Regions from separate parts of the Homo sapiens genome. Here region 2 is reported to be linked to region 1. Evidence: microRNA targets listed by miRTarBase, many of them from high-throughput screens and not tested one by one. Region 1 holds a microRNA gene; the other region holds the end of a gene's coding sequence.
Evidence for each region. The annotated mature microRNA hsa-miR-3606-3p reads AAAAUUUCUUUCACUACUUAG and lies in region 1 at 2,166-2,186, shown strand. An mRNA with a match to its seed (bases 2 to 7 or 8) in the 3' UTR can be bound and repressed. Matches are read on the target gene's strand: a 7mer-m8 pairs with bases 2 to 8, a 7mer-A1 pairs with bases 2 to 7 and ends in A, and an 8mer does both.

Region 1 (3,000 bases):
CCATGAAAGCATAGTTTCATGCTTACTCCATGAAAGCATGTGCTTCAATATGGCTATCAGTGAAAATTACTTTGAAAAAATTGTTGCTTAGTGCTCTAAAATGATCCTCCTGTGACACATACTGATTTGATTAGTAGTAAAAATGATAGTTTTTGACTGTTGCACTATTCCAGAATTCATGATTTTTTATGTTTATATAAAAGAATAGAGGATAGACTAGTTTTCTGATGCTTTCAAGAATGTGCCCCAAGCTAATCACCAATCATAAAAATTCAGAGAAGAACCAAATTCAAAATCTCTTCTATTTATGTATCATTTAATAATTTATACGAAGTACATATTATCTCTAATTTATTTAGATAATGATGATTCTTTTGACCACATTTCATATGTTGTGTTATAGTTGGAGGATTCACTTAATCTCTACAAAGCATAACACTCATCGATACATTTATTTTCACACAAACAACTTCAAATATATACGAACTATTTGCATTACTATTAATACATTATCTGTTTTTTGTATACTTAGGGCCCTCCTGGGATTAATGGTAGTCCTGGTGGTAAAGGCGAAATGGTAAGCTGTCCCCACTCCTCAGCCTTATCTCATCCACACATTACTGGCTTCTTTTGCATTTTGCATGACAATAGATTTGTGATATTTAAGTGAGATATTCATAAAAGAACATTCAAGTTCGGCTAATATAGTGTCTTTGGTTTGTTCTTAGGGTCCCGCTGGCATTCCTGGAGCTCCTGGACTGATGGGAGCCCGGGGTCCTCCAGGACCAGCCGGTGCTAATGGTGCTCCTGGACTGCGAGGTGGTGCAGTAAGTTGCCTTGTTTTTTCTCTGTTGACTGAAAGGTATAGTTTAATTCCATCAACAAAAAATTAATAGCAAAATTTTGCTCCTGTTCAGTTGAATTTATATTGACTTCACTCTTGTCTTATAACTTATAACTGAATTATGTGTTACTGGTGATGATTTGTTAGTCGAATCCTCCCTGTGTTTCAACCAAGACTTTGTTATACTTTAGGGTGAGCCTGGTAAGAATGGTGCCAAAGGAGAGCCCGGACCACGTGGTGAACGCGTAAGTTTTACTGCAACAGATCTGGTTATTTCTTGAAAAAATGCAACATAATTAGAAAGTAAACAGGTAAAAACTTTGAACTAAATTCAGTCATAATTTCTTTATTTTACCATCTTTTTTTTTTTTCAGGGTGAGGCTGGTATTCCAGGTGTTCCAGGAGCTAAAGGCGAAGATGGCAAGGATGGATCACCTGGAGAACCTGGTGCAAATGGGCTTCCAGGAGCTGCAGGAGAAAGGGTACGTTTTCCATGGGGCATCTAAAAGAAAAGCAGCATCACTGTCATCTAAATAAAACTACCTTCAGGGTGAGACAGCCAATTTTTCTTAAGTTGAGTGTTCAGTGAAAATATTGTTTAAAGCATTCTATGACATAAAAATATTTGCCACTCAAGAATTATGAAAAAGAATTGAAATCCTTTGGACTGAAATACTTGTCTTTCATTATTTTCAGGGTGCCCCTGGGTTCCGAGGACCTGCTGGACCAAATGGCATCCCAGGAGAAAAGGTAGATAACTTTAGTTTCTATGTTCCTAAATGCTAGCACCACAAATGGGCAGTTCTTGTATACAATTTCTCATTCATGAAAACCTAAATATCTGAAGAATATATATTAGAGTTAAGAAAAATTCCTAATATAATGCATCCTCTGTTCAACAACTTTCCTGGCTTTGTAACTAAAGCCACTTACTTACCCTCTATGAGAATCCTTTACTTATCTGTTAATTGGAAAGCATTTATCTGAGCATCGTTGCAAGAGTACAGTAAACTAAAATGCCTGAAAAGTCTTTGAAAACTCTAAGGTTACATCAAATATGATTTCATAGCATTAAGATATTTGATTTTAGCTGCACATAATTATATTTTTAAGCACAGTGAATACTGTTTTATTAAGCATGTGATGTTCACAAAGTTGCTTTAAAATTTTTTCAATATGGCAATCCAAGCTAAGATAACTGATTTTATGTATAAATGTTTCAGCAACACACGAACCCTTTTTAAAAGTTCAAATGACGTCCTCTCTTTGTAACCAAAATATTGTTGCTATCTAGGTTAGTGAAGGCTATTTTAATTTTTTTAAAATTTCTTTCACTACTTAGGGTCCTGCTGGAGAGCGTGGTGCTCCAGGCCCTGCAGGGCCCAGAGGAGCTGCTGGAGAACCTGGCAGAGATGGCGTCCCTGGAGGTCCAGGAATGAGGGTACAGAGAAACATTTGTTTGAATGACACTTTAATTTAGACAGAAGAAAGGCAAGACAAATGAAGACAGATCAAAAGCAACTTAAATCAATCAGATTACATATTTTGTAAGGCACCAAACAAAACAAAATTCTTTTAAGTAAACTTAAGCCGAGATAGTTCAAGGAGAAGAGAAGATAGAACACTTGCCTTAGATACTTTATAGACAGGAAAAAAGATGTGCAAATCTGAGGCTTCACATGTAAGTGAAAATATCAAAATCATACAAATAGTGTATGTAGTAATTTTTTATTATTTCATTTTAAATCACCTAACAACTGACTTCTTTACTTCAGGGCATGCCCGGAAGTCCAGGAGGACCAGGAAGTGATGGGAAACCAGGGCCTCCCGTATGTACATTTTTAAAATCTCATTTTAAAAGGCCAGTTAAAATGGAATGTATATGTTGGCCTATCCTTGAGTGTGTGTGTGTGTGTGTGTGTATATATATATATGTATATGTATATCTATATATATACACACACACACACACACACACATACTATATATATAGCATGCTTTAATCTTCTCTTTATCAAACCTTTATTAATGTAATTTTTTCTTATTAGGGAAGTCAAGGAGAAAGTGGTCGACCAGGTCCTCCTGGGCCATCTGGTCCCCGAGGTCAGCCTGGTGTCATGGGCTTCCCCGGTCCTAAAGGAAATGATGTGAGTTCC
Region 2 (4,151 bases), not on the chromosome of region 1:
AGAAAACTACTATCTCTGATTAAGTGTATCAGAATGAAAGCACTGTAGGGTGAAAAGACTGCATACACAAAGAACTTCTACAGGTGGGTTCTGGACACATTAACACAAAAGCAGAAAGTCTTATTCAAGTAAGTTTTTCATAATAGCCACAGGTTTTGTTAACTGGTACATTTTTACATAGATTTGGCTCATAACTTTACACCATCAGTGTCTTATCAATATCTAACATTCTCCCAAGATGATGTCATTAAGGTAGTAAGAGGGCCAAGATAAACTTTAAAGATTTTTGAGATACAAAAAAAAATGGTGGGTGGGAAATAACTTTCATGGATTTAAAGACTATCAGTTTTATTAGGTTTGCCAACCTGTCTTCAGGCCACAGTTAATTTGTCATGTAGAGGAAGTGAGAGCTATAGATTAGTTTTCATGAATGGTATAGAGAGAATGAAATTATTTGATGAATCTGAATCACTGGGACTAGAAACAATTTTCATACCAAAGGTTCACAGTTTCAGGGTTTATGGGTACAAGAGAGGGCTTCGGATTTTTAGTACTTACTGATCATTAGAAAGTATCAAGGTTTTAAAATGTTTTTCTAACATCGATTATGTTTGAATAATATGACACTGAGAGAAGCTGCAAAAAATCATTTGGTAGAAATTAATCAAAAAATTAAAAAAAATAAAATGTTCAGTATTCATCTAGCATTTAGTTCTTATTTTTCCTTTTCATAAAATGCAAGAGAATCAATTTTATTTTCAATTATCTAATGTATTTAGCCCCAAAAGATGAAACATGCACAGACAGCTTTAATATGAATGGCAAGGAAACGACCAATTTTAATGGCTTGGTTTTAGTAGATGACCAGTTTGAAAGATAATTTACAATGCTGAAATGAGAGCTGATCATTTTTCTCAAAACGTTTTTCAGGTTAAAAAAAAATCTTTATTAGCTGTATCTTCCCTTGATGACAGGGTTCAGGGGCAAGACTTAAGCTAGCCAACTCAGACTGCATCACAGAATGCAACCAAATGTTTGCTCAATTAGTAAGTTAACATCATAAAAATAAGTTTTAACTGTGGACGTTTTTAGAGCAGCAAAACTGCCGAATCTTTAAAAAACTGGGAACTGCCACAGCTCTTTTAATGAACACGTGCCCCGGATACGCTACCAAGGAACTAATAAGGTTTTAGGCATCGTTTTGTTTTGTTTTGTTATTACTAATGCCTGCAGGCTTTCAGCGTTAGGTCCCTCTCTGTAACCCACAGCAGGGCCTAGAACATGAGGCGGTTGCGCGTGAGCAGTATTTCTTTTTTTAACTCCAGCAAAAGCCCCGCAAACGATAAACGCTAAAAGCCCGATTGACATCCTCCTTGCCCTTCCATCTCTCCTTTACGAAGACGGTTATAATCCTGGCGGGACCAGGGGTGGAATATTGTGGTTCTGGAGGGACAGAGCGAGTGCGTGAGAACACGGCAGGGGAGGGCAGCAAGACGTGACCACGGAGTAGGAGGGAAGGATGTTGCCTCTTCTAGGGCGGGAAGAGACTGCGAGAGGTGCTGCTATGCATGACCAAGGCTGGCACGCGGGGAAGATGGTGATGGCCGCAGGACAGGGTGAATGCGGGGGATTCCCTGTTAAGGGGCAGCGTTCGTGGCCGCCTCCGGTGAATGATTCGGGAGCAACGAAAAGGGTGAGGCACAGAACCCGGGAATTCCTGACCGAAAGAGAAAAAAGGGCGCCGAGAAACAGGGTTATTATGGGATGGCTAAGGGGGCTCCCTAGGAAAAATTACAGGATCTTCCTCACCCGCCAATTGCTGTACAGTCTCTTCACTCGCCGATAATAAGCGTCTTTGTCCAGAGTCACAGCCATAGCCCCGGACGCCGCTTCTCCTCGGGTTCCGAGAATCACGCGAGGTCCCGGCTCAGCCACCCGCTCTCGGCCCAGGAATCCCGCACTCTCCCAATGACCCGGAAGTATCGACCTCAAAGATGCCCTTTCCGCTTCCGGGTCCCAACAGCGTTAGGTTTTTTTTTTGTTTGTTTGTTTGTTTTGTTTTTTTCCAACCCTCTTTCGGATGGACGGGGGAAAGAGAGAAAGAAAAACGAGGGAAAATCAACAAAATGTGCGATGCAAAGAGTCGATTTTCGCGGGGTTTGTCAACTTCGCCACTGCCGCACGCGAATCGACGTCGTCACGTGACGGTCTGCCTCCGCCCTTATTAACTCTCAGCCCAGCGGCGGTTTCCAGGACCTCAGACTTTTTGCCGAGGCGGCAGTCCCTAGACGAAGCGAAGGAGGCGGCGCCTGCCCCGCCCACAAGAGCTGCCGCGCGCGGGTGTTATAGCTCCACCCCATCTGCAAAGGAAGGGGGAGCGGAAAGAGCGGGATCTAGCGTGGGATAAAAGTGGGACTACTACAGTGTAACTGGGCATGCGCCCCTCCTAGAAATGATGGGAATGCAAAAGCCCTTGACTGCTCCAGGACTCGAGGGATCCTCGGTGCCAGGATGCTGGGTCAAGCGCTCCGCCGGGACAGAGGACTCATACCAGGGAAATGGAGCCCAGCCTCGTGATAAACTACGACCCAAGCTGGGGGAGGAACCTAGTTTTCGAAAGGAAAATAATATGCGCAAGCTTTAACTGAGCAGTGGGATGGTGTAAGTCAGAGGAAACAGATGACTTGAGGGGCTCTACAAACTTTTAGTTCCTTCCCACAACCCCACCCCCTGAGCCCAAGTCGCGGCAGCATCCTTCCAGTCGGCCAGTCCCCTTGCTGCAGTTCATGAAAACTGGCACTATTCTATGGCTTCCCCCAAATAACCGTTACTTCAGTTAATTAGAAACAAAACATAAATGGTTCCTGATGACATTCTTGCTCCCTGTCTCTTCTAAAAACTTGGAGTTTGAATCCAGAAGTTTGCCTACCTACCATTTACCTTAAATAATTCCCTTGCCTTTAGCCAGCTGGACAGTCTACATTTGTATATACCCTTTAGAGGAGTACAGATGACTTGTCTGCTGTAAGGCAATTTAGTATAAACAGTATTGAACTTAAGGAAAGTGGTGCTGAAATTACCCACCATTAACAACTCAAAATCAATACACTGGGTTTGAGCAAACATAGAACAAAGGAAGAGTGGAAAAGGATTAACTTAAATTTATTAATGCCAAGGGGAAAGAAGGTAACAGTTCCTGACCCTCCAGCTGTATCCACAGTTCGGCCAGGAACAGGCTCTGCCAGAGGCTAGGGCCAGCGCTACATAGTCTGTGGTTAATGGAGGTGACTAGGGAGGGGTGAGCACACCAGCTGCTCTAGTCTCCTTTCCTTCCCCAGAAATGAGGAAGTGGTCATGTATTATTTTAGGAGTTCCCCTGCCCACCCAATCCTCTCATAATTGGGAGCAATCAGGTACATTTTTTTTTTTTTTTCCTTTTCACCTCCTGGAGTCCTGGACTTCCCCACATCTCCCCTGCCCCTCCCACGTTTCCATAGTCCAAGGGCCAGAGTAAATGAAAATACAGCAGCCGCCCAAGCAATGGGGCCCATGCTGGGGCTTCAGTCATCAGCATCTTCACTGGAGTCTGAGTTAGCTGGCATCATAGGATCATCAATGAGTGAGAAGTCCCTTTCTGAGCTATCATAGCCCTGAGATAAGTCATCATCATCTTCTTCATCCTCATCGTCATCCTCCTCAGGTTGCAGTGGTGGCAACCGCAAGGTAGTACCAGAGGCGGTAGTCACTGGTGAAGAGGGGTAGCCAGGGGCTCTCAAGCCTGGATGGTGATGGTGGTGATGGTGGGGGTGGGGGTGGTGGTGGTGGTGATGAAGCATGGTGCTGGAGTCTACATGAGGGGATGATGGTGCACCACCCATCACAAATGGCATAAAAGGCAAAGATGCAGAAGTGGCACTGCTGTGACCCAAAGATGACACAGACTGTAGGCCACTACTGCTGTGTTGGAACGTGTTATGCAGAGATAGAGACCCAGTGCTTCCACCCTGCATGAGGGCCATCATCTTAGAAAGGTCTGGTCGCATCCTACGGGCCCGCTTCTTGCTGCTCTCTGGTGCAATAGGCCCTGGCAAAACCCGGTTGAACACCGTTTCAGTGTGATGACCCTAGGAGGAGGGAATAGAAGATAATAA

Region 2: miRTarBase lists CHD8 as a target of hsa-miR-3606-3p. Seed matches in the 3' UTR shown: 7mer-A1 at 3,158-3,164.

The regions. Positions count from the first base shown.
Region 1 is chr2:188,993,506-188,996,505 of GRCh38, forward strand. MIR3606 (microRNA 3606) reads left to right here and starts at 2,125; the gene lies at 2,125-2,187. COL3A1 (collagen type III alpha 1 chain) reads left to right here. Exons shown (of 51, transcript NM_000090.4): 17 at 533-577; 18 at 729-827; 19 at 1,036-1,089; 20 at 1,219-1,326; 21 at 1,541-1,594; 22 at 2,187-2,285; 23 at 2,620-2,673; 24 at 2,893-2,991.
Region 2 is chr14:21,382,053-21,386,203 of GRCh38, forward strand. It overlaps CHD8 (chromodomain helicase DNA binding protein 8), which reads right to left. Exons shown (of 38, transcript NM_001170629.2): 38 at 3,147-4,124. The coding sequence ends at 3,561. SUPT16H (SPT16 homolog, facilitates chromatin remodeling subunit) reads right to left here and starts at 1,967. Exons shown (of 26, transcript NM_007192.4): 1 at 1,810-1,967. The coding sequence starts at 1,875. LOC107984643 (a long non-coding RNA gene) reads left to right here and starts at 2,221. Exons shown (of 2, transcript XR_001750627.2): 1 at 2,221-2,661.